Regions from separate parts of the Homo sapiens genome. Here all the other regions are linked to region 1. The links come from fine-mapping of genetic effects on gene expression. A gene starts in region 1. Each other region holds a variant in brackets. All regions are shown on one strand. Distances are between the middles of the regions.

Region 1 (8,176 bases):
GAAGTGCCCTGGTGTGGAGAAAACTCCCACCTCCACTGCTTAAGATCTGATTGACTTTGGGCAATTTACGTCATCCCTCTGAGCCTCAGTTTGCTCATCTGTAAAATGGGGCTGACAAAAGTTACAAGCTGCCAGGCGCAGTGGCTCACGCTTGTAATCCCAGCACTTTGGGAGGCCGAGGTGGGCAGATCACCTGAGGTCGGAAGTTCGAGACCAGCCTGAGCAACATGGAGAAACCCCATCTCTACTAAAAATACAAAAAATTAGCCAGGCATGGTGGCGCACGTCTGTAATCCCAGCTACTCGGGAGGCTGAGGCAGTAGAATTGCTTGAACCCGGGAGGTGGAGGTTAGGGTGAGCAGAGATCACGCCATTGCACTCCAGCCTGGGCAACAAGAGCAAAACTCCATCACACACACACATAAACACACAAAAGTTACAAGCCTTACAGAGTTGTGAGAAATAAGTGATGTAGAGTGCATACAAAGCTTGGCAGAGTGGCCCATAGAAGTCCACAGCTTTGGTACCTCAGGGGAAACTGAGGCACAGATAAGAGAGGGCCCCAAACAAGTCCCTTGAGGAGGTCGCCATGAGGGCCCTAGGAAGTCTCAGTCTCAGAGAGACCCCAAAATTGGAGATAATCACTGCCCGGCAGATCCATGGAACTCCATTCCCTCCCCGCAGGCTCTCAGACACCCCTCAGAAGTATCTGGAATCGGTGGATCACATACACACCTCACATGCACTCACTCACCTGCAGAACAACACAGAGACCCCCAACCCAAGCAGTTCAACTGCACCCATCCTGACCTTCCCACGCAGCTGCAGACACCACCACAGCCCAGAACCTCCTACCCTTTGCCACCTCTGTCTCTGTTCGGAAAGGGTCAGGCTGAAGGAGCAACCTGCCCAGTTGGAATACCTGACTTTTCATCCCTACCTGACTCCAGGCTTTTCCTCAACTCTGTCCCCTTTCCCTGCGGTGACATCCCTCCATGACTCAATCTGCACATCCCTTAAAGCATAAGCCAGAGTCCCAGCAGTCGGGCAGACCATCAGTTCCCCCACAGTGTAACCACGGGGTGCACAGTTCACAGGTAGGGAGTGACACCAGGCAAGACAGCCAGACTCAGCGGCCAGGACACCCCATCCCCGGCCCTAGGACTGCACACCTCCCAGGGAGCCTGGGCAGTTGCTGAAGGCAGCTTCCACCCCCCACCCCACCCCCAGTGACTGCGGGCCTTGGACCATTAGCCCCCTCCCCCTGCCCCTCTGCACGGCCCTGAGTGATGGTCCATCTATTATGCATGCTCCCTTCCTGCTCCATCCATTTCATCAGTATTCTCCACCCCTGCACCACCCCGCATCCCCCTCTGCTCCCCTCCCTTAAGGGCTTTTAACCAAGTACATTAGGCAGGGCCAGATGCCAGTCTGACAGATGTCCGTAATGTTAGCCTCCGTTTCCCTCCTTCCTCCCTCTGCCCAGCCCAATTTACCTCCCACCACTCCCCGCTGCCAAAACTTCCCAGGCCTCAGTTGTACCCCTCTTCTGGGTCTCCCCCCTATACCTCCTGTTTGTGCCGGGCCTTTGCCAGCCAACCTGCCCTCTGCTGCCCTGTTGGCCTGGCTCACTTTCAGCTCCAGCTCTTGGAGCGCTGGGGTGTGCTGAATGAATATTCCATCTGGGTGATTATTATTCACATGATATTAATTAATTATTAATTGCAATTAATCTCCTTCATGCCTAACCTTCCTCTGGGAGGCAGGAGGGGCCTGGCAGCTGAAAGGGACAGTGGGCAGGCAGGTAGAGCTGGCTTGGGGCCTCAAGTTATTTTCCAAGGCCCCACCTTCAGCCAGGACAGGAAGAACAACAAGCCTATCTGGGCACTGTGTGGAAACTGAGGCAGGAGCAAGCACTAAGTTGTTCCAAGAAAGCCCACTAAGGTGGCTGTGGTGAGAACCTGAGAGCCCTAATCCCTGACTGGAATCTGGGCTGCCTCTCCCTGCCCCCAACTTGCCCCATCCAAGCCCTGTTTTGAACAGAACAACTAGCTTTGGCCAGAGCAGAGCAGGGGGCCATTGGAAGGCTGACCCAAAGCAGACCTGAGACCTAGGCATTAGTGGTCCCTGTACACTGAGGGCAGGGGACCCTACAATAATGGAAGGGGGCCCTGGGGCTGGGCAGGCCTGGTGCTCCCCACCAGTGGGCTCCAGCACCCACCGGATAGCCCACTGTACAGAAGGGGACCCTGCGGGGCAGCTGCTGAGGGGGACTCCAACCCTGGTTACCCCGTGGGCTTCCTGGGGCTCTGAGGCCTGCTTCAGCCCCTGGCCTCACCACCCAGCCCCACTCACCGGGCCCCCTGGTGGCTCCTGGCGGACCCTTGTGTCCAGCTGCTGCTTTCGGACCTCTCCCCCGGAGCTCTCCCTAACCAGACGGCTGGGTTCCGTGACCTCAGGGGCTCCTGGGCCTCCCAGCTGGGGTAAGCCCCCCCATCGCAGAGCTCCAGCAGGACCTTGGGTCCCAAGACCTGGGGAAACAAGGCCATGGCTGCAGGCAGCTGCCCACCCTGGGGCAGAAGACTTGGGAATGGGGTGGGCATGCCTCATCCCCCACTCTGGTGTGGCCCCTGGAGCCCTAGGGCGATCCGGGTGGGAGGATCTGGCTGCCCTGCAGAGGCAAGAGCCCGCGGGGAGGGGGCCAGGAGCTTCACTCCCGCCCAACCGTCACGACTGCCCCCCCATCCGCCCAAACCCGCAGAGACCTGCAGAGCTGGCCGGTCGGCGGCAGGGGCAGGGACGCGGTGGGCCCGGCCAGCTGGGGACAGGTGGGTGGACGCACCTTCCCTCCTCTCCCGCTCCCCTACCCTCCCGCGCTCCGGACCGGCTGTCACCCCGAGCACTGCAGGAAAAGGTGGCTGCAGCAGCAAGCGCCGCACATCCCGGGGCGGGGGCAGGGAGGGGGCGCCGGGGCCGGGCGGGGGTCACTCACCGGGCGTGGGGAGCAGCGACAGCAGCAGAGCCGCGAACGCCCAGCGCCGCAGCAGCCTCATGGCTCGCTCATTCCTCCCGGTCCGGGGGCTGCGGCTGCCAGCGGCGCGGGGAGGGCGGGAGCAGGGACGGGGGTGGGGAGGCGCCAGCTGCGGAGCCGGGGCGGGGGCGCGGGGCCGGGCGGGGGTCGCGGAGAGGTGGGGGCGGCAGGGACGGCGCCGGGGCTCAGCGCGCTCCGGCCGCGGCCATCCCGGCGGGGCGGCGGGGCCGGGTTAAGAGCTGAGCAGCGAGCACGTGAGCCCAGGGCCCGCCCTCCGCTCTCCCGCCGCCCCCCGGCCCCCCCAGCCCCGCAGGGCCCGGGCCGCCGCCGCGGCAGGACAAAAGAGGCGCCGCCCCGGGGTCCCTCCTCGCACCTCGAAGTCTCCTCGGCAGGTGCGGGGCGGTGGCGCTCCGCGTACTTATCCCGCGGCCTCTCCTCGGCCACCTCTGCCTGAGCATCTCCGAGGACTCGTAGATTTGTAGGGGAGGGAAGCAGGGGACGGGGTACCCCCGGGGTCGACCCGGCGACTGCCTGTCTGGGGCCCGGGGGCAGGGGCGTGGCTGCGGCGCCCACGTTCGCCCCTCTGTCGTGGTACCCCAGAGAGGCTGCCCCAGCCCCAGCTTGGAGCGCCCCGCTTGACCCCAGGCTGTGGAAGCTGGGGTTGGGGTGGGCAAAGGCTCTTGGCGAACGCCGGGCTCTACGCCTCTGGGATTTCTTGCACCTTCGCTACGGGTCGTGTCACTGCGGAGTCCTCTCACGCCCGCGGTACAGACCCCTTCCCATCGGCTCCTTCTCCCCGCCAAAGATGCCCCGGCCTCCAGGAGGGCTTCAGGGATCGCTGTCACTCCAACCATCAGGAAGGGCTGGCATGTCCGTCTGGGTTCCTGAGTCTCTCACAGGCGTCCTGTCCTTCCTCCTAGATAAAATATAAACTAGCCAGGTCACTTATATGCTGCTAGCATGCCCCATGGCTCCCCCTCCCTTGCTAGTCCCAATCCTTAGGAGCAGAAGACACCTCTGGAGCCCCCCAGCATTCCCTCTCTGGTCAGACTAGGCTGCCCTGTCTGCAAAATACTTGACCTCCCAACCTACATTCCCAGCTGTGCCCTCCACCCAGCTCCTGGGGATGTTGGGTCCCAATACCAGGGCTGGGACCTCAGACTTCTGCTAGGGGTGCTGAAGGCCAGATACCTGAGATGGTGTGGGGTGTGGTAGGGCATGGTGGGTGGGCCGCTGAGTCCCCACCCTGACCTTTTTGGTACCCATGCTAGGGGACCACAGGTTGCTGAAGAACAAGATTGGAGGCAGGAAACCCCTTCCTGGGTCCTCTGCTTCCGCAAGGACCCAGGGCCTCTGCTGGGGATGAGGGAACTGCCTCTAGCTTGTGACACCCCCACCCCCCGCTCTATTTTAGGCCCAGGAGAGGTGAGAAGGCGATTTCCCAGGAGGCGCTGACATCAATGTAGGGAACCAAGTGACTCCCCCCACCCCCAACCACCTGCCATGCCAGGCCCAGATGCTCAGTAAGGCTGAGCCAATTCTTCCTTCGCTCTGGAGACATCTTGAGAACCTCCTCCAAGATGTAGGCATGAGGAGGCTCCTGGGAATGAGGGCCTACTAGGTGGTATTCCTGGAAACTCATCATGAGCCCAGAGGGAGAGATTGTGCTCCCCATTTTACAGATGGGGAAACTGAGGCTCTGAGAGGTTATGTGAGCTTCTCAAAGTCACACAGCTGGTGAAAGGCACATCCCATACTCCATGGCCCCACTCCTCTTAGCCACCCCTAGTCCTACTTCCATCTCTGCCCTCCATTTGGGACCAGAGGGGACTGGTATATCTGGTCCCATGCACCCTCACCACACACCCCAGACACGAAGGTGGCTGTCCTGCTCCAGCCTGCCCATGTCCCAGGGCCACATCAGCAAGTCCCGATCAGGAGTGCCCCCCAGTAGGCTGGGTGAGGTTTGTCATTTCACAGTGCGAGCCCGGGGCTGGGAGAGTCTGGGTCCTCCAACATGTTCAAGACCACAGAGCAAGCCCAATCTGTGGTCCAGGCCTCTTCACCAGAGGCATGTTCCTACCACATCGGTGGCCCTGGGACCCTAGACTTCCTGTTGGGGAGACCTGATGAGCCCTAAGAGTGACTCTCCCTGGTGGCACCCTGGGCTAGTTCCAGTGGAGACTCGGTCATATGGCTCCCTGGCCCCCATAGCCACTTATATTCCTGGGTTCCCCGGCTCCCAGCAGATCTGGCTAGAACTTACTTTTTTTTTTTTTTTTTTTTTGAGACAGAGTCTGGCTCTGTCGCCCAGGCTGGAGTGCAGTGGCACGATCTCGGCTCACTGCAAGCTCCGCCTCCCGGGTTCACGCCATTCTCCTGCCTCAGCCTCCTGAATAGTTGGGACTACAGGTGCTCGCCACCACGCCCAGCTATTTTTTTTTTTTTTTTGTATTTTTAGTAGCGACGGGGTTTCACATGTTAGCCAGCATGGTCTCGATCTCCTGGCCTCGTGATCCACCCGCCTCGGCCTCCCAAAGTGCTGAGATTACAGGCGTGAGCCACCGCACCCGGCTAGAACTTACTATTTTTTTTTTTTCTTTTGGAGAGTCTCGCTCTGTCACCCAGGCTGGAGTAAAGTGGCAAGATCGCGGCTCACTTCAACCTCCACCTCTGGGGTCAAGTGATTCTCTTGCCTCAGCCTCCCGAGCAGCTAGGACAACAGGCATGTGTCACCATACCTGGCTAATTTTTTGTATTTTTAGTAGAGATGGGATCTCACCATGTTGCCCGGGCTGTTCTCACCCTCCTAAATTCACCATGTTGTCCAGGCTGTCCTCAACCTCCTAAATTCAGGCAATCTGCCTGCCTCCCAAAGTGCTAGGATTACAGGTGTGAGCCACCATGCCTGGCCTAGAACTTTCTTTTTTTTTTTTTTTGAGATTGAGTTTCGCTCTTTTTTTTTTTTTGAGATGGAGTCTCGCTGTGTCACCCAGGCTGGAGTGCAGTGGCGCCATCTCGGCTCACTGCAAGCTCCGCCTCCCGGGTTCATGCCATTCTCCTGCCTCAGTCTCCCGAGTAGCTGGGACTACAGGTGCCCAACACCATGCCCAGCTAATTTTTTTGTGTTTTTAGTAGAGACGGGGTTTCACTGTGTTAGCCAGGATAGTCTCGATCTCCTGACCTCGTGATCCACCCGCCTCGGCCTCCCAGGGTGCTGGTGGGATTACAGGGTGAGCCACCACCCCCAGCTGGAGTTTCGCTCTTGTTGCAATGGCATGATCTCGGCTCACCGCAACCTCCACCTCCCAGGTTCAAGCAATTCTCCTGCCTCAGCCTCCCGAGTAGCTGGGATTACAGACATGTGCCACCATGCCCAGCTAATTTTGTATTTTTAGTAGAGATGTGGTTTCTCCATGTTGGTCAGGCTGGTCTCGAACTCCTGACTTCAGGTGATCCACCCACCTCGGCCTCCTAAAGTGCTGGGATTACAGGCGTGAGCCCACCGCACCCAGCCGATCTTTTTTTTTTTTTTTTTTTTTTTTTTTGAGATGGGAGTCTCACTCTGTTGCTTAGGCTGGAGTGCAGTGGCATGATCTCGGCTCACTGCAATCTCCTTCTCCTGGGTTCAAGTGACTCTCCTGCCTCAGCCTCCCAAGTAGCTGGGATTACAGGTGTGCACCACCACGCCTGGCTAATTTTTGTATTATTAGTAGAGATGGGGTTTCGCCATGTTGGTCAGGCTGTTCTCAAACTCCTGGCCTCAAGCAATCTGCCTGCTTCAGCCTCCCAAAGTGCTGGGATTGCAGGCAATAGACCTTATTTTTTAATTTTTTGAGGGTCTCGCTCTGTTGCCCAGGCTGGAGAACAGTGGCACAATCATAGCTTCCTGTAACCTTGACCTCTTGGGCTCAAGTCATCTCCTGCCTCAGCCTCCTGAGTAGCAGGGACTACAGGTGGCGTCACCAAGCTTGGCTTTTTTTTTTTTTTTTTTTTTCAGACGGAGTCTTGTTCTGTTGCCCAGGCTGGAGTGCAATGGTATGACCTCGGCTCACTGCAACCTCCTCCTCCCACCGGGTTCCAGCAATTCTCCTGCCTCAGCCTCTCAAGTAGCTGGGATTACAGGTGTGCTCCACCATGTCTGGCTAATTTTTGTATTTTTAGTAGAGATGGGGTTTCACCATGTTGGCCAGGCTGGTCTTGAACTCCTGACCTCAAGTGATCTGCCCACCTTGGCCTCCCAAAGTGCTGGGATTACAGGTGTGAGCCACCGTGCCCAGCACTTTTGTATTTTTTGTAGAGATTGGGTTTCATCATGTTGTCCTGGCTGTTCTCAACACCTGGACTCAAGAGCCATTCAAGGCCAGGCGTGGTGGCTCAAGCTTGTAATCCCAGCACTTTGGGATGCTGAGGCGGGTGGATCACGAGGTCAGGAGATCGAGACCATCCTGGCTAACACGGTGAAACCCTGTCTCAACTAAAAATACAAAAAATTAGCCAGGCGTGGTGGTGGGCGCCTGTAGTCCCAGCTACTCGGGAGGCTGAGGCAGGAGAATGGGGTGAACCTGGGAGGCAGAGCAGCCTCCCAAAGTGCTGGGATTACCAGGCATGAGGCCGATGCTTGGCTAACAAAATTTCTTTTTGTAGAGACGGGGGTCTTTTTATGTTGCCCAGGCCAGTCTCGAACTCTTGAACTCAAGTGATCCTCCAGCCTCAGCCTCCCAAAGTGCTGGGATTAGATTACATCTGTGAACCCTGGCACCCGGCCTCGGCTAGACCTCTTGCCTCTCCCTTGATCACAGTCCCCAGTCCCTGAGGTTCCACCTCCCCTGTCTCATGCTTGCCTCAGCTCTCTTAGGAGCTGTGGGATCCCCACACAGAAAGCTTGCTTCACGTTCTTTCACCCACCGTCCCTCCTGAGGTCAGGGCTGTCTGTTTTCTCATTGGTGGCCCTTCATCAGACTGGGACTTCAGAAGAGCAGGGCTTGTCCTCCTCATCAGACCTGACCCTGATAGCAAGGGCTGTTTTCTGCTTAGATCGGGGCAGGCCTGTGTCTCCCCCTCAAACATAGGGTTCCCTGGGGGGCCCCACCTCAACTTCATAGCTATGGCTGGCTCCTTCGGTCCATCCATTGAGGCTGGGGC
Region 2 (8,176 bases), 110 kb after region 1:
CAGCGGAGAGGCCGGTCGTGGAAGGTTGAAAGAGCTAAAGAGCGCAGCCCTACCGGGTGGGAGAGGTGTTGGAGGCACTTGGAAGATTTGAGAAGTCGCTCAGCAACTGGCTTATCCTCCAAAACCTAGCTGTTGCGCACATTTCATTTGTCCGACATTTCATATTTGTTCCTTAGTCCCTCCCGTAGCTTCAGAATCCGTTGGAGCTGCCCAGAGACTGATATATCTTGTACCGGTTTGGGGAGGGCGAGGAGCAACTTGTGGATTGGGTGTTGCTGGGAGACCCCTTTTTGAGGGAGAGCTGCCCTGTGTCCTAAGCCCGGGCTTTCAGTCCGGGTTAAGGCATTTAAGTGTTAATGTGACTTTTGAACAAAGTTCGCTGTGACCTTTTTGTTCGTTTTTGTTTGTCTGTGTAAAACAGGGTCTTGCTCTGTCGCCCAGGCTGGAGTGCAGTGGCGCTATCATAGCTCGTTGCAGCCTTGAACTCCCGGGTTCAAGCGACCCTCCCGCCTCAGCCTCCCGAGTAGCTGGGGCTGCAGGCACGCGGCGCCACCACTCCTGGCTAATTTTTTAATTTTTTTGTAAAGCTGAAGGGCGGGGGGGTTGGGTCTCCTTATGTTGCCCAGGCTGGTCTCAAACTCCTGGTCTCGAGCGATCCTCCCGCCTCAGCCTCCCGAGTAGTTGGGGCTACAGGCGCGTGCCACCACTCCCAGCTAATTTTTTTTTTTTTTTTTTTTTTGGTGAGATGGAGTCTCACTGTCGCCAGGCTAGAGTGCGGTGGCGCAAAGGCTCACTGCAACCTCCGCCTCCCGGGTTCAAGCGATTCTCCCGCCTCAGCCTCCCGAGTAGCTAGGACTACAGGCCCACGCCACCACGCCCCGCTAATTTTTGTATTTTTAGTAGAGACGGGAATTTCACCATGTTGTCCAGGATGGTCTCGATCTCTTGACCTCGTGATCCGCCCGCCTCGGCCTCCCAAAATTCTGGGATTACAGGCGTGAGCCACGGCGCCTGGCCCTAGCTAATTTTTTAATTTTTTTGTAGAGCTGGGGTTGGAGGTGGGGATGGGGGTAGGGGGTTGGATCTCCTTATGTTGCTCAGGCTGGTCTTGAACTGAACTCTTGGCCTGAAGTGATCCTCCGCCTCGGCCTCCCAAAGTGTGGGATTACAGGTGAGAGCTTACATAAACAAGCCATTCCAGGCACCCAACAAACCATTCACATAGCAGTCAGATTGGGGATGTGATGGTCTCAGAGAAATGCTAGTTTTTGTCCCTAGACACTGCTAAAAAATCAGATAGTTGAAATATAAAAGAAGTAAACACAGTAAGCACCTTTAGGCTGTTTTTATATTTAAAATCAAAACTTGAGAAATGAGCACTTAAGTGGAAGATACTGTTTTAACTCAGACACGAATGGAAGTAGGAGGATGAGTTTTATTGACCCATATTGTCCTGATAGTTACTTCAGGTCTCTACTCAGCTTTGAGTTCAGAAAGCTCACCAAGGCTGGGCGCAGTGGCTTGTGCCTGTAATCCCAGCACTTTGGGAGGCCGAGGCAGGAGGATTGCTTGAGCCCAGGAGTTGCCCAGCCAGGGCAACATAAGGAGACTTCGTCTCTACAAAAAAATTAACAATTAGTTGGGTGTGGTGGTGTGTGCCTGTAGTCCCAGGTACCTGCACTTGGGAGGCTGAGATGGGAGGATCGCCTGAGCTGGAGAGTTGGAGGATGCAGTGAGCCATAATCACTCCATCACACTCCAGCCTGGGCAACAGAGCAAGACCCTGTTTCAAAAAAAAAAAAAAAAAAAAAGGAAGAAAGAAAAGAAAAAAAGCTGCTGGACTCACACCTGTAATCCCAGCATTTAGGGAAGCAAAGGCAGGAGGATAGATTGAGCCCAGGAGTTTGAGATTTGCCTGGGGAATATAGTGCTCCACAAAAAGGAAAAACAAAATGTGCATGCACACACACACACACACACACAAACACACACACACGCACACACACTTAAAAAAAGCTGACCAGGTGGTGTGGCTCTAACAGTTACATTTCTCTGCCTCAGCCTTAAAGTTGCTGGTGTAGGGCTCATTGCATTGAGGACTACTGGCTTTTTCCCCCTCTCCTATACTCCCTAGAAGCATTTTGAAAAGCTATGAATCCCCTTATGTATTTTTATAGTAAAATATACATAAGATTTGTCGTTTTTAAGTGTTTGGTTAAGTGGCATTAAGCACATTCATAATGTTGTGTAACCATGACCGCTCTACAGTTTCAGAACTTCATTAATCACAAACAGAAACTCTGCAGCATCCCATAAATAATTATTCCCCATGCCCCCTTCTCCCAGTTCTGGCAACCACCATTCTACTTTCTATCTCTATGAATTTGACTACTCTAGGTACCATATATAAGTGGAATCATACAATATTTATCCTTTTGTGCCTGGCTTATTTTACTAAGGTAAAATAAACCTTGTCATCAAGGTTCCTTCATGTTATAGCATATACCTGAATGTCATTCCTTTTTATGGCTGACTAAGGTTCCATTGTATGGATATACCACATTTTGTTCAAGCATTCATCTGTTTATGGACACATGGGTGGTTTCCACCTTTTTTTTTTTTTTTTGAGTCAGAGTCTTGCTCTGTGCTGCAGGCTGGAGTGCAGGCGCAATCTTGGCTCACTGCAACCTCCCCCTTATCGGAGGAATCGTTCAGATGATTCTCCTGCCTCAGCTTCCCCAGGAGCTGGGATTACAGGCATGTGCCACCAAACCTGGCTAATTTTTTTTTTTTTTTGAGACAGAGTCTTGCTCTGTCACCCAGGTTGGAGTGCAGTGGCATGATCTCAGCTCACTGCAACCTCTGCCTCCTGGGTTCAAGTGATTCTCCTGTCTCAGCCTCCTGAGTAGCTGGGATTACAGGCATGAATCACCATGCCTGGCTGATTTTTGTATTTTTAGTAGAGACAGGGTTTTGCCATGTTGGACAGGCTGGCCTCGAACTCCTGACCTCTGGTGATCCGCCTGCCTCAGCCTCCCACAGTGCTGGGATTACAGGTTTGAGCCACCGTGCCCCGCCTAATTTTTGTATTTTTAATAGAAATGGGATCTCACCATGTTGGCCAGGGTGTTCTCGACCTCTTGACCTCAAGTGATCTGCCTGCCTTGACCTCTCAAAGTGATTACAGGCATGAGTCACCGCGCTTGGCTCTCAACTTTTCACTATTGTGCGTAGTACTGCTAGAAACATTGGTGTACAAGTATTTGATTAATTTTTTTTCCAATTATTTTGGGTATATACCTAAGAGTGGTATTGTTGGGACATATGGTAATTGTATTCGATGTCTTGAGTAATTCCAAAATGTTTTACACTGTGGCTGCACCATTTTACATTCTCACCAACAATGCATGAGAGTTCCCATTTCTCCACATCCTCACCAACACTTGTTATTTTCTTTTTCTTTTTCTTTCTTTCTTTCTTTTTTTTTTTTTGAGACAGAGTCTCCCTCTGTCACCCAGCCTGGAGTAGAGTGGCACGATCTTGGTTCATTGTAACCTCTGCCTCCCAGGTTCAAGGGATTTTCATGCCTCAGCCTCCCGAGTAGCTGGGATTACAGGCACGCACAACCACGCCTGGCTAAATTTTTGTATTTTTAGTAGAGACAGGGTTTTTCCATGTTACCCAGGCTGGTCTCGAACTCCTGAGCTCAGGCAATCCGCCTGCCTCGGCCTCCCAAAGTGCTAGGATTACAGGCGTGAGCCACTGCACCCAGCCTATTTTTTCTTTTTAAAATTTCTCTCTCTATAGATATACATATAGATAGATATAAATAGATATAGAGAGATCTATCTCTGTATATCTATCTATATATATCTATCTCTATATATAGACAGGGAGATATATCTATAGATCTATATATATCTATATATCCCTGTATAGATCTATATATAGTAATCTATGGTAATCTGAAATTACTATATATATGTATTACTGTATGTGTGTGTATATATATATATATGTATACACACACACACAGAGATTGAGAGAGAGAGATGGGATCTTGCTCTGCTGCCCAGCGTAGACTGGTAGACCACAGTGGCATGATCATAGCTTACTGAATACTCAAACTCCTGGCTTCAAGTGATCCTCCCCACTCAGCCTCCCAAAGTGCTGGGATTACAGGCACCACACCCAGTCTCTTTTTCTTTCTTTAAAAAAAAAAA[A/T]AAATATATATATATGTATATATATACATACATATATATATATATATATATATATTTTTTTTTTTTTTTTTGTAAAAACAGGGTCTTTCTGTGTTGCCCAGGCTGGTCTTGAACTTCTGGCCTCAAGCAATCCTCCCAAAGTGCTGGAATTACAGGTGTGAGACATTGCACTCAGCCTTTTTGTTTTGTTTTCTTTCTTCTTCTTCTTTTTCTTCTTCTTTTTTTTTTTTAAAAAGCCAGTTGGATACAGTGGCATGCTCCTGTAGTCCCAGCTAGTCCGGAGCCTGTAGTGGGAGGATCCCTTAAGCCCAGGAGTTTGAGGCTGCAGTGCGCTGTGATCATGACACTGCACTCCATGCTGGCGTGCATGAGAGATGAGAGACCCCATCTCTCAAAAAAAATTTTTTTTTAAAAAAGATGGCTATCCTAGAGGATGTGAATTGGTATCTCATTGTGGTTTTGACTTACATTTCCCTAGTGACTAATGATGTTGACCATCTTTTCATGTGCTTATTGGTATATCTTCTTTGGAGAAATACCTATTTAAGTTCTTGGCTCATTTTTTGAAGTCATACTGTCTTGTCGTGTATTAATATGGTTTGTCGTAGAAATAAAAATTACTGGCAAATTTAACACTCTATTGAATTCGAGTGAATACATTAACAAAGAAAACATTTTGGTTATGAACAGAGTAAGTATATAATATGTAGTTAGTTCTTTCAGTTCTTTCATTCTCTTTTGGAAGATCTCATTTTCAACGTGTGTGTTGAGGGTTGGGTGGGGTTAGTTTCCCAGTCTTACTCAGACATATATACAAACCTCAGATTAAAGTGAGAAAGAGTTAGGAATACTCAAATAATTGTTTTATGTCTTCTCTGCCTTGATCTGAACTTAAAATTTTGTGGAGGGAGAGACTATTGACCCTCTTTCTCCATTTATTGTTTCTATACAGGGACAATGACGAAAGACATGTTTATACAATAAGATTAATTACATTTCAGTAACTTTGATCCAATTCAGAATGATGCTGCCCTCAAGTAAAAAAAACTTTTTCTTTTTCTTTTCTTTTCTTTTTTTTTTTTTGGAGTCTCACTCTGTTGCCCAGGCTGGAGTGCAATGGTACGATCTCAGCTCACTGCAACTTCCGTCTCCCAGATTCAAGCAATTCTCGTGCCTCAGGCTTCTGAGTAGCTGGGATTACAGGCACACACCACCAGGCCCAGCTAATTTTTCTATTTTTAGTAGAGACGGGGTTTCACCATGTTGGCCAGGCTGGTCTTGAACTCCTGACCTTGTGATCCGCCTGCCTCGGCTTCCCAAGTAAAAAACTTTTTTTTCCACTTACTATTTTGGGGATATTTAAGTGAATCTGAAATTACTATTGGATTTTTTTTTTCTCTTGAAACAGAGTTTTGCTCTTGTTGCCCAGGCTGGAGTGCAATGGTGCAATCTCGGCTCGCAGCAACCTCCACCTCCCAGGTTCAAGTGATTCTCCTACCTCAGCCTCCCAAGTAGCTGGGATTACAGGCACCCGCCACCACGCCCAGCTAATTTTTGTATTTTTACGGAGACAGGGTTTCACCATGTTGGCCATGCTGTTTTCACCATGTTGGCCGGGCTGTTTTCGAACTCCTGACCTCAGATGATCCATCTGCCTCCCAAAATGCTGGGATTACAGACGTGAGCCACCTCACCCGGCCCTACTATTGGATTTTTAAAGACAGATATTTAAGAACATTCTTTGCTAGAACTGAGGACAATTTAAACTTATTCCATTCAAGAAAACTTAGTGCAGAATGCAGACTTTCCCTTTCAAGTATATGTAAAAGTTAACTTCTTTTTTTTTCCACCTCTGGAAGACAATGTACAATGTAGTACTCTTCAGATACACTAATGAGACCCTTTTTATACTTTAACAGGGACGTAAACATTTCCTTTTGTAACAAAAATAAATTATGGGTTTCATTTTAAAAAGCCTATCCCCAAGAAATGTTTTGAGTGTTAATCTAAGTAAGATTTCATTATTCTCATAAGTAAAACTTTGAGTTCAAATAAAGTTTTGATTTTTTTTTTGATAATTGAAGGTATATGTAGGGGCTCAACCTAAATGCCAGGGAATTAACCCTCCATAGGAAGTAATCATATAATTCTAAGTCAGTATATAATTGAATTGATGTAGGATTTTTAAGTATTCTCTCAACTATATTAAATGAATTGTTTTTCCAGTTTTCTAGTGGTCCAAAAACTTAAATAGGCTGCAAATCTGCTGTGATTCAAACCGTGCAATTCCTCACAGGCATCTCTGACTTGAGGGACTAAGTTCCTGTAATTATGTGTCCTGAAATTAACTGGGTTGCCAGATAGGTTTTCTCAACCTTTAATAGCTTGTTGGAAGGCTTACAGAATGCTCTTTATTAGAAATATTTGGAACTACTTCCCCCCTTTTGGATACTCAAATTAGTGTTTTTCTAGTTCTCTGGCATAATTTGTATAGCTGCTTCCTTTGTAGAAAGTAAGCTTATGTTCTGCTTTTCCCTTTCTGGTTGGCTGGAGTGCTAGGTCACTCTTATCTGTGCTCTAGGAAACTTTTAGATTTCTACTTAGCTTAGGATGACACCCTGAAAGATTTAGGGTCTGCTTCTGTTTGGGTTAGGGGGTAGACACTTGAATTCATTGGTCTTTTTTTTGGCTCACTGCAGCCTTGACCTCCAGCACTCAAGGGATCCTCCCACTTCAGCCTCTAGAGTAGCTGCAACTATAGGTGCCTGCCACTATGCTCACTAATTTTGTGTATTTATTGTAGAGACAAGGTCTTACTGTATTCCTAGGCTGGTCTCGGACTCCTGGACTCAAGGGATCTTCCTTCTTCAGCCTCCCAAAGTGCTAGGGTAACAGGCATGAGCCACCATGCCCGGCCAAATAGATTGGTTTTTATCAAAGATGCTGTAATATTAATATGCATCTTCCTGCTATCCCTTCAAAAGTGAGAATTAATGTTGTTTTCTTTTCTTTTCTTTTTTTGAGATGGAGTCTCTCTCTGTCACCCAGGCTGGAGTGCAGTGGCGCAATCTTAGCCCACCGCAACCTCTGCCTCCCGGGTTCAAGCAATTCTCCTGCCTCAGCCTTCCGAGTAGCTGGGATTACAGGTATGCACCACCACACTCAGCTAATTTTGTATTTTTAGTCGAGATGGGGTTTCTCCATGTTGGTCAAGCTGGTCTTGAACTTCCGACCTCAGGTGATCCGCCTGCCTCGGCCTCCCAAAGTTCTGGGATTACAGGTGTGAGCCACTGTGCCCAGCCCAAAAAAGACTTTATTTTTTAGAGCAGTTTCAGGTTCATGGCAAAATTGAGAGGGAAGTACAAAGAGTTCTCATATACAGATTTGCTGCCCCTTCACAGATGCAGCCTCCCCCAATATCAGCATCCTGCACTAGAATGGTACATATGTTATCATCAATGAACCTACATTGACATATCATTATCAATCAAAGTCCATAGTTTACTTTAGGATCCACTCTTGGTGGTGTACTTTCTATGGGTCTAGAACAGTATATAGTGACATGTATCCACCATTTTGGTATCATACAGAATAGTTTCACTACCCTAAAAATCCTCTATGCTCCGCCTCTTCATTTCTCCCCCCCCTCAACCCCTGGCAACCACTGATTTTTTTTTTTCTATCTCCATAGTTTTGCCTTTTACAGAATGTCATAGAATTGGAATCATACCATGTGTAGACTTTTCAGATTGGCTTCTTTTACTTAGTAATATGCATTTAGGGTTCCTCTATGTATTTTCATGGCTTGATAGCTCATTTCTTTTTAGCACTGAATAATATTTCATTGGATGTACCACAGTTTATCTATTCACCTACTGAAGGACATCTTTCAGTTTTGGCAATTATGACTAAAACTGCTATAAACACCAGTGTGCAAGTTTTTGTGTGGACAT
Region 3 (8,176 bases), 160 kb before region 1:
GTGGGAGGGTCACTTGAGCCCAACAGTTCGAGACCAGCCTGGGCAACATGGCGAAACCTTGTCTCTAGTAAAATACAAAAATGAGCTGGGCATGGTGGTGTATCTCTGTGGTCCCAGCTACTAGAGAGGCTGAGGTGGGTGGATCGCTTGAGCCAGGGAGATTGAGGCTGTAGTGAGCTGTGATAGCACCACTTCACTCTAGCCTGGGCAACAGAGCAAGACCCTGTCTCAAAAAACAAAAACAAGATAGTTAAGGGTTGAGTGTGAGGAAAGGTCTGAGGGTTGAGAAGGGGTGGAGGATGCACCTGGGCCTATGACAGGGGTCCACGGAGGTGGCTGATGGCAAAAGCTGGGGGACTCCAACTGCTGATGCTGAAACAAGCTTGTGTCTCACATACACAGGGACAGTTCACTGAGCTTCAATGACAGGCACCTCCTGCTCATCACATCTTTTCTCTCTAGGACAGCTTTGCCCTTATTTTAACTAGACTTCCCTTGAACCAAAAGGGAAGGCTACATGCTGTGACTTGCTGGGCAGCCTGGAAAGGCGGGCCACTCCTAGCCACAGAGATGAGACAGAGTTCAGACAAGAGCTTATCCCCAGTCTTCCTTTTCTATTTTGTTTATTTTATTTTATTTTTTTATTTATTGAGACAGAGTCTCTGTCACCCAGGCTGGGGTGCAGTGATGCGACATTGGCTTACTGCAGTCTCCACCTCCTGGGCTCAGGTGATCCTCCCACCTCAGCCTCCCGAATAGCTGGGATCACAGTAGTGCACCACCATACCTGGCTAATTTTTTTGTATTTTTTGTACAGACAAAATTTCACCACATTGCCCAGGCTGGTCTCGAACTCCTGGACTCAAGCGATCCGCCCACCTCAGCCTCCCAAAGTGCTCGGATTACAGGCATGAGCCACTATGCCCAGCCTTGCTCTTCCTTTAAAGCCTCCTGTCCTTCCCCAGGTCCCCAGTTCATAGCAGGATCAAAGGTCACTGGGCGCTCACCCCGTCTTCAAGATGCTCTTTCCTATGTCACTGCTTACGCCCAGGTCAGATGTGACTAGAGCCTAAGGAGCTCCCACCTCCCTCTCTGTGCTGGGACTCACAGAGGGAGACCTCAGGAGGCAGTCTGTCCATCACATGTCCAAATGCAGAGCATACCCTGGGCTGGGCGCAGTGGCGCACAACTGTAATTCCAGCACTTTGGGAGGCTGATGTGGAAGGATCACTTGAGCCCAGAAGTTCTAGACCAGCCTGGGCAACATGGCAAGACCCTATCTCTACAAAAAAAGTTAAAAAATCAGCCACGTGTGGTGACACACACCTGTAGTCCCAGCTATTCAGGAGGCTGAGGTGAGGGGATCACTTAAGGCTGGGAGGTTGAGGCTGCAGTGAGTCGTGGTTGCGCCACTGCACTCCAGCCTGGGCAACAGTGAGACCCTGTCTCAAAAGACAAAAAAAAAAAAAAAAAAAAAAAGAACATATCCTGGTGTGGAGTAGGGGACGCTGCTCTGACAGAGGCTCGGGGGCCTGAGCTGGCTCTGTGAGCTGGGGAGGAGGCAGACAGCCAGGCCTTGTCTGCAAGCAGACCTGGCAGCATTGGGCTGGCCGCCCCCCAGGGCCTCCTCTTCATGCCCAGTGAATGACTCACCTTGGCACAGACACAATGTTCGGGGTGGGCACAGTGCCTGCTTCCCGCCGCACCCCAGCCCCCCTCAAATGCCTTCCGAGAAGCCCATTGAGCAGGGGGCTTGCATTGCACCCCAGCCTGACAGCCTGGCATCTTGGGATAAAAGCAGCACAGCCCCCTAGGGGCTGCCCTTGCTGTGTGGCGCCACCGGCGGTGGAGAACAAGGCTCTATTCAGCCTGTGCCCAGGAAAGGGGATCAGGGGATGCCCAGGCATGGACAGTGGGTGGCAGGGGGGGAGAGGAGGGCTGTCTGCTTCCCAGAAGTCCAAGGACACAAATGGGTGAGGGGACTGGGCAGGGTTCTGACCCTGTGGGACCAGAGTGGAGGGCGTAGATGGACCTGAAGTCTCCAGGGACAACAGGGCCCAGGTCTCAGGCTCCTAGTTGGGCCCAGTGGCTCCAGCGTTTCCAAACCCATCCATCCCCAGAGGTTCTTCCCATCTCTCCAGGCTGATGTGTGGGAACTCGAGGAAATAAATCTCCAGTGGGAGACGGAGGGGTGGCCAGGGAAACGGGGCGCTGCAGGAATAAAGACGAGCCAGCACAGCCAGCTCATGTGTAACGGCTTTGTGGAGCTGTCAAGGCCTGGTCTCTGGGAGAGAGGCACAGGGAGGCCAGACAAGGAAGGGGTGACCTGGAGGGACAGATCCAGGGGCTAAAGTCCTGATAAGGCAAGAGAGTGCCGGCCCCCTCTTGCCCTATCAGGACCTCCACTGCCACATAGAGGCCATGATTGACCCTTAGACAAAGGGCTGGTGTCCAATCCCAGCCCCCAGCCCCAGAACTCCAGGGAATGAATGGGCAGAGAGCAGGAATGTGGGACATCTGTGTTCAAGGGAAGGACTCCAGGAGTCTGCTGGGAATGAGGCCTAGTAGGAAATGAGGTGGCCCTTGAGGGTACAGAACAGGTTCATTCTTCGCCAAATTCCCAGCACCTTGCAGGCACTTACAGCTGAGTGAGATAATGCCTGGGTTATGAAATCAAAAAGTTGGAAAGCAGGTCAGAGGTCATCTGGTACAGCCCTTCCTTCCCTTTTTTTTTTTTTTTTTTGTGAGACAAGGTCTCTCTCTGTTGCCCAGGCTGGAGTGGCGCAAACACAGCTCACTGCAGCCTCAACCTACTGGGCTCAAGCAATCCTCCAGCCTCAGCCTCCCAAAGTGCTGGGATTACAAGCATGAGCCACCCCACTCAGCCCTTTCCTTCCTTTTTAATTGATGCATAATAATTGTAAGTATTCATCATGGTCCAACCAACCCTTTCTTGACCCACCTTCCTAGAGAGAGGGTCCTCTTGCTTCAGCGGTCAGGGCCCCAGACCCATGGTCTGGCTCCAGGTACCACCTGCCTCATGCAGGAGTTGGCGTGCCCAGGAAGCTCTGCCTCTGGGCACAGTGACCTCAGTGGGGTGAGGGGAGCTCTCCCCATAGCTGGGCTGCGGCCCAACCCCACCCCCTCAGGCTATGCCAGGGGGTGTTGCCAGGGGCACCCGGGCATCGCCAGTCTAGCCCACTCCTTCATAAAGCCCTCGCATCCCAGGAGCGAGCAGAGCCAGAGCAGGATGGAGAGGAGACGCATCACCTCCGCTGCTCGCCGCTCCTACGTCTCCTCAGGGGAGATGATGGTGGGGGGCCTGGCTCCTGGCCGCCGTCTGGGTCCTGGCACCCGCCTCTCCCTGGCTCGAATGCCCCCTCCACTCCCGACCCGGGTGGATTTCTCCCTGGCTGGGGCACTCAATGCTGGCTTCAAGGAGACCCGGGCCAGTGAGCGGGCAGAGATGATGGAGCTCAATGACCGCTTTGCCAGCTACATCGAGAAGGTTCGCTTCCTGGAACAGCAAAACAAGGCGCTGGCTGCTGAGCTGAACCAGCTGCGGGCCAAGGAGCCCACCAAGCTGGCAGACGTCTACCAGGCTGAGCTGCGAGAGCTGCGGCTGCGGCTCGATCAACTCACCGCCAACAGCGCCCGGCTGGAGGTTGAGAGGGACAATCTGGCACAGGACCTGGCCACTGTGAGGCAGAAGTGAGGAGGGGATGGGGAAGGGGGGCCTTGTGAGCAGAAGGGGCTGAATCCCCAAGAAGGAGTGCCCGAGAAGTCTCAGGGAGGGGCCGAACCTCCCTGCTCCCTGGGCCTCCCTACCTCTTGATGGGGCACTATCCTTGCCCCCCAACATGATGGGAGGGACCAGAAACAGGCCCAGGGCCCCGGGGATCTGATGCCCGCATGCCTTCTGCCAGGAGTCCAGGGTCCCCTCAGCACCTCCCTACTGGGGAAAGCAGTGCAGGAGCAGCGGGGCCCCTGTGTTTCATTCATGGCTGGGCTTTGTGACTGTGGGCAGCGAGCTCACCTATTCTGAGCCTGTGTCC[A/G]TATAAAGGAGGAGTTGGAAGCGGAGAAGGTTGATGTCCATGAGGGAGATTGGATTCTGGGGTGAAGAAAGTGAGGGAAAGAGCAGGCAGGTCTGGGCGCAAAGCACAGGTGACTGCCTGCCACCAGCTTGTGACCCCCATCAAGTTACTTTGACTTGCACAGCTGTGAAGCGGTGGTCATAATAAAATTCATTTCAAAAGGTGGTTACCTGGGATCAGAGGAATCCCCAGGGGCATGGCGCTTCACTGAGCTGACAGGACATGCATGTGTGCCTTCAAGTGCAGGAGGACATGTGCGTGTGTGTGTGTGTGTGTGCAACAGTGAGTGTATGCTTGTGGATGCGCCTGTGTGAGCAGAAGCAGGTGCACCAACCCTGATAAGGCACCTTAGTAATGAGTTAAGGCAAAAGCCCACATCTGCTCATCCTCCAGACAAGTCCTCTGTCTAAGGCCCCCCAACCCTTAATCCTCCTGCTGCTCTACTGGTCCTGGGTGGGGGTGGTCTCTGTGACAGCTGCCTCAAGGGAGACTGAGGCAGGTATTCAAGTGTCCTCAGAAGAGCCTGGACCCAGGAATGTGTCCCCCCACTCCAGGCTCCAGGATGAAACCAACCTGAGGCTGGAAGCCGAGAACAACCTGGCTGCCTATAGACAGGTCAGGGAGGTGGAGGGGAGGGGCAGGGGAGGGAGGAAAGGATTGATGGCCACCCACCCAAACACAGCCCCCAAGCTCAGCCCGCCAGAGCAATGTGCTGCTCCCCACTGCCCCAGAAGGAGGGGTAAGGCAAGGCTGAGGAATGGGGAGAAGGAGCCTGGGGCCCCAGTGGCCCTCTACTCCTCACCCCTCCTGCCACTCCAGGAAGCAGATGAAGCCACCCTGGCCCGTCTGGATCTGGAGAGGAAGATTGAGTCGCTGGAGGAGGAGATCCGGTTCTTGAGGAAGATCCACGAGGAGGTGAGGCCAGGGCAGAGGGAGGAAAGCTCAACACAGAGATTGCAACTGAGAGAGGGAGAGACAGAGACAGAGAAGCTGAGACTGAGAGAGACACTCAGAGAGAGGAGAGAAACAGAGATTGGCAGGTAGAGACAGGAAATGAAAGACAAACAGAAAGACACTAAGGGAGACGGAAAGAGACAAGAGAGCATTCGAACTCCTGGCCGAGGGGCAGGCAGAAGAGGACACAATGGCGTGGGGAACCCCAGCTGTGGCCTGTACCCTGAGCCCTGGTACCGCTTCTCTCACCCTGGTCAGGAGGTTCGGGAACTCCAGGAGCAGCTGGCCCGACAGCAGGTCCATGTGGAGCTTGACGTGGCCAAGCCAGACCTCACCGCAGCCCTGAAAGAGATCCGCACGCAGTATGAGGCAATGGCGTCCAGCAACATGCATGAAGCCGAAGAGTGGTACCGCTCCAAGGTAGCCCTGCCTGTGGGCCAGCCTGCCTCCTCCAGGCAGCCCTTCTTGCTCTGTACAAGAGAATGGGGGAAGGAGGGTGGAGGAAGCTGGGAGAATATCCTCTCCAGGTGACTGACTTTCACCAGAGAAGTGAGATGGCTTGCCCAGGGTCACACAGGCACTATTGCTTTCAAAAGTACCCATTATTATTACTGCTACTATTGCTATTATTAGTAGTAGCTGATACTGTTCTGTTCTAAGCCCTGTGCTTTTCATGGATTACCTTACTATGAAGTAGGTGCTGTTCTTTGACAGATGAGAGAGCCGAAGTCCAGAGAGGTTAACTAATTTGCTCAAAGTCACACAGCTCCTAAGTGGTAGAGTTGGATTTCCAACTCTAGCACATCTCACTTGGGAGCCTGCATTCCATGCCTCTGCCAGTCTGTTTTGGGTTACTGAGCCTCTACCATATGCCAGGCACCCCCCAGGACACAGAGAGGTGTCTGACCTGGAAGGTGTGATATTGACGTGCACCCAAACATAGTGCCCGTAGAGAACACCACAGCTCAGAGCTTATATGTAGTGTGGGAGCCAGGAAAGACACTGTAGAGGGGGCATTTGGGCTAGGCAGGACAGGCACGCTGTGGACAGGAAGAGAAGAAGGGAGGGCCATTCCTAGTGGAGGACAGAGCCTGGAGGCAGAAAAGCACAGAGAGGCAGGGCCCCAAGATGCTAGCCTAGCCAGGGCACCTAGCTGAGGAGTGTGAGTGGCAGAAGCCACTGGTGTCTGAGCAGGGTGAGGGCCCGATGGGGCTGGGAGGACCTCCCTGCAGGCAGGGGAGAAAGGGCTATTAGAACCCAGGGTGAGGCCAGGCGAGGTGGCTCACACCTGTAATCCCAGCACTTTGGGAGGCCGAGGCATGCGGATCACCTGAGGTCAGCAGTTCAAGACTAGCCTGGTCAACATGGTGAAACCCCGTCTCTACTAAAAATACAAAATCAGCCGGGTGTAGTGGCGCATGCCTGTAATCCCAGCTACTCAGGTGGCTGGGGCAGGAGAATTGCTTGAACCTGGGAGGCAGAGGTTGCAGTGACCCGGGATTGTGCCACTGACTTCCAACCTGGGCGACAAGAGCAAGACTCTGTCTCAAAATAAAACAAAAAAAACAAAAAAACAAAAACACACAAAACACCCAGGCCTCCGCTCGCCTAAGACGACAGCGTTCAGTCCCGCAGATGCAGCTGTCAGTGTGGAAGGTTCTGGATTCTGTGGCACTGTTCATTCATTCGCTTGCTGACCAGGTGTTGTGCTAGGTGCTGAGGTCTGGCAGCCCGCTACCCTGCCCGCATCCATGGGTCACAGTTGTTGGGAAAAGTCCCAGCCAGGGCCAACGTCCTGGGGTTAACTGGGGTGCTGCTCACCTCCCTGATTTCCCAGAGCCCGTGCCTGCCCATGGGCCCACACAGCCCCCCATATGTGTCCCCCACCTAGTTTGCAGACCTGACAGACGCTGCTGCCCGCAACGCGGAGCTGCTCCGCCAGGCCAAGCACGAAGCCAACGACTACCGGCGCCAGTTGCAGTCCTTGACCTGCGACCTGGAGTCTCTGCGCGGCACGGTGAGCGCGGCCAGGGCAGGACGGGGACGGGCGGAGCAGGGACGGCCACCCCAGGAGATGCCAGGGGAGAAGGGCCAGGGACGAGGACCTGGGTCGAGGGCGGGGCCTGAACGTTACCCCCGGGCTAGAGGCGGGGCCTGGGGCCGGGGGCCGGGCCTCGAAACCTCCCCAAGTCGGGTCGGGGCTCCGCGGGACCGGCCGGCTCCATCCCACAGAACGAGTCCCTGGAGAGGCAGATGCGCGAGCAGGAGGAGCGGCACGTGCGGGAGGCGGCCAGTTATCAGGAGGCGCTGGCGCGGCTGGAGGAAGAGGGGCAGAGCCTCAAGGACGAGATGGCCCGCCACTTGCAGGAGTACCAGGACCTGCTCAATGTCAAGCTGGCCCTGGACATCGAGATCGCCACCTACAGGAAGCTGCTAGAGGGCGAGGAGAACCGGTGAGCCCTCATCACAGCCCCTGGGGAAGTCTCCCTGCTGCCTCACGGTAGAGCTCATCTTGCTCCCTTCAGGGACTGAGTCTTTTTCAGCCTTGTGTGCAGATCCCTTCCCACCTCAATGCCCAGCACAGTGCCTGCCTCACACATAGCAGGCAGTCACTAGATGTTTGATGACTGAATGGATGGATGGATTCAACCAATATTGATTAGGCCTCAAGGCCAAGGACTTGGGTCACCCTCCAAACTAAGAGGCATACTCCCCATCTTCCCAGCCAAGATTGGACTCCTCACCTCACCCATCTCTTCTGCCTCCTTGGAACTTTCTTCACCACTTTCCCCTCCCTTTTCCATCTTCCTTCAGATAGACATGCGCCCCTCCCAGATAACACTCAAGCCCCTTGCAGACGTTTGGAACTCCAGATAGCACGTTGGCTGCTGGGGAAAAAGCTAGGAGATGGAGTTAGACTTTCCTGGCAAGGAAAAGGGCGTTCAAGTTGTCATGATGGCCCCGCACCAAGACCCAGCCTAGGGGTGTCCCAGGCAGCCCGGGCAGCCCTCTCCCTCTGCTTTCTTTCAGGATCACCATTCCCGTGCAGACCTTCTCCAACCTGCAGATTCGAGGTCAGTACAGCAGGGCCTCGTGGGAAGGGCACTGGAGTCCTGCCCCCTCCTCCA

Alleles and levels. Positions count from the first base shown, and alleles are read on the strand shown. Sizes are in standard deviations (SD) of each study's normalised expression. Not every link is listed here.
For the expression in skin of the gene that starts at base 3,265 in region 1, allele T in region 2 goes with a lower level than allele A (small effect, 0.33 SD a copy in TwinsUK).

Evidence for each region. PIP is the estimated chance that this variant, and not a neighbour inherited with it, causes the effect.
Region 2: its variant is fine-mapped to the expression of ADAM11 in skin (TwinsUK, PIP 0.95).
Region 3: its variant is fine-mapped to the expression of ADAM11 in esophagus muscle (GTEx, PIP 0.97).

Annotation. Positions count from the first base shown.
Region 1 is chr17:44,754,077-44,762,252 of GRCh38, reverse strand. It overlaps ADAM11 (ADAM metallopeptidase domain 11), which reads right to left and starts at 3,265. Exons shown (of 27, transcript NM_002390.6): 1 at 2,993-3,265; 2 at 2,356-2,531. The coding sequence starts at 3,053. RefSeq lists an enhancer at 3,073-3,624.
Region 2 is chr17:44,647,961-44,656,136 of GRCh38, reverse strand. It overlaps LINC01180 (long intergenic non-protein coding RNA 1180), which reads left to right and starts at 5,788. Exons shown (of 3, transcript NR_110661.1): 1 at 5,788-7,369. The variant A/T (reference allele first, on the strand shown) is at 4,224.
Region 3 is chr17:44,910,561-44,918,736 of GRCh38, reverse strand. GFAP (glial fibrillary acidic protein) reads left to right here and starts at 3,237. Exons shown (of 9, transcript NM_002055.5): 1 at 3,237-3,711; 2 at 4,649-4,709; 3 at 4,914-5,009; 4 at 5,307-5,468; 5 at 6,940-7,065; 6 at 7,281-7,501; 7 at 8,079-8,122. The coding sequence starts at 3,251. LOC105371793 (a long non-coding RNA gene) reads right to left here and starts at 18. Exons shown (of 2, transcript XR_934781.3): 1 at 1-18. RefSeq lists a silencer at 7,162-7,231 and an enhancer at 7,442-7,551. The variant A/G (reference allele first, on the strand shown) is at 4,056.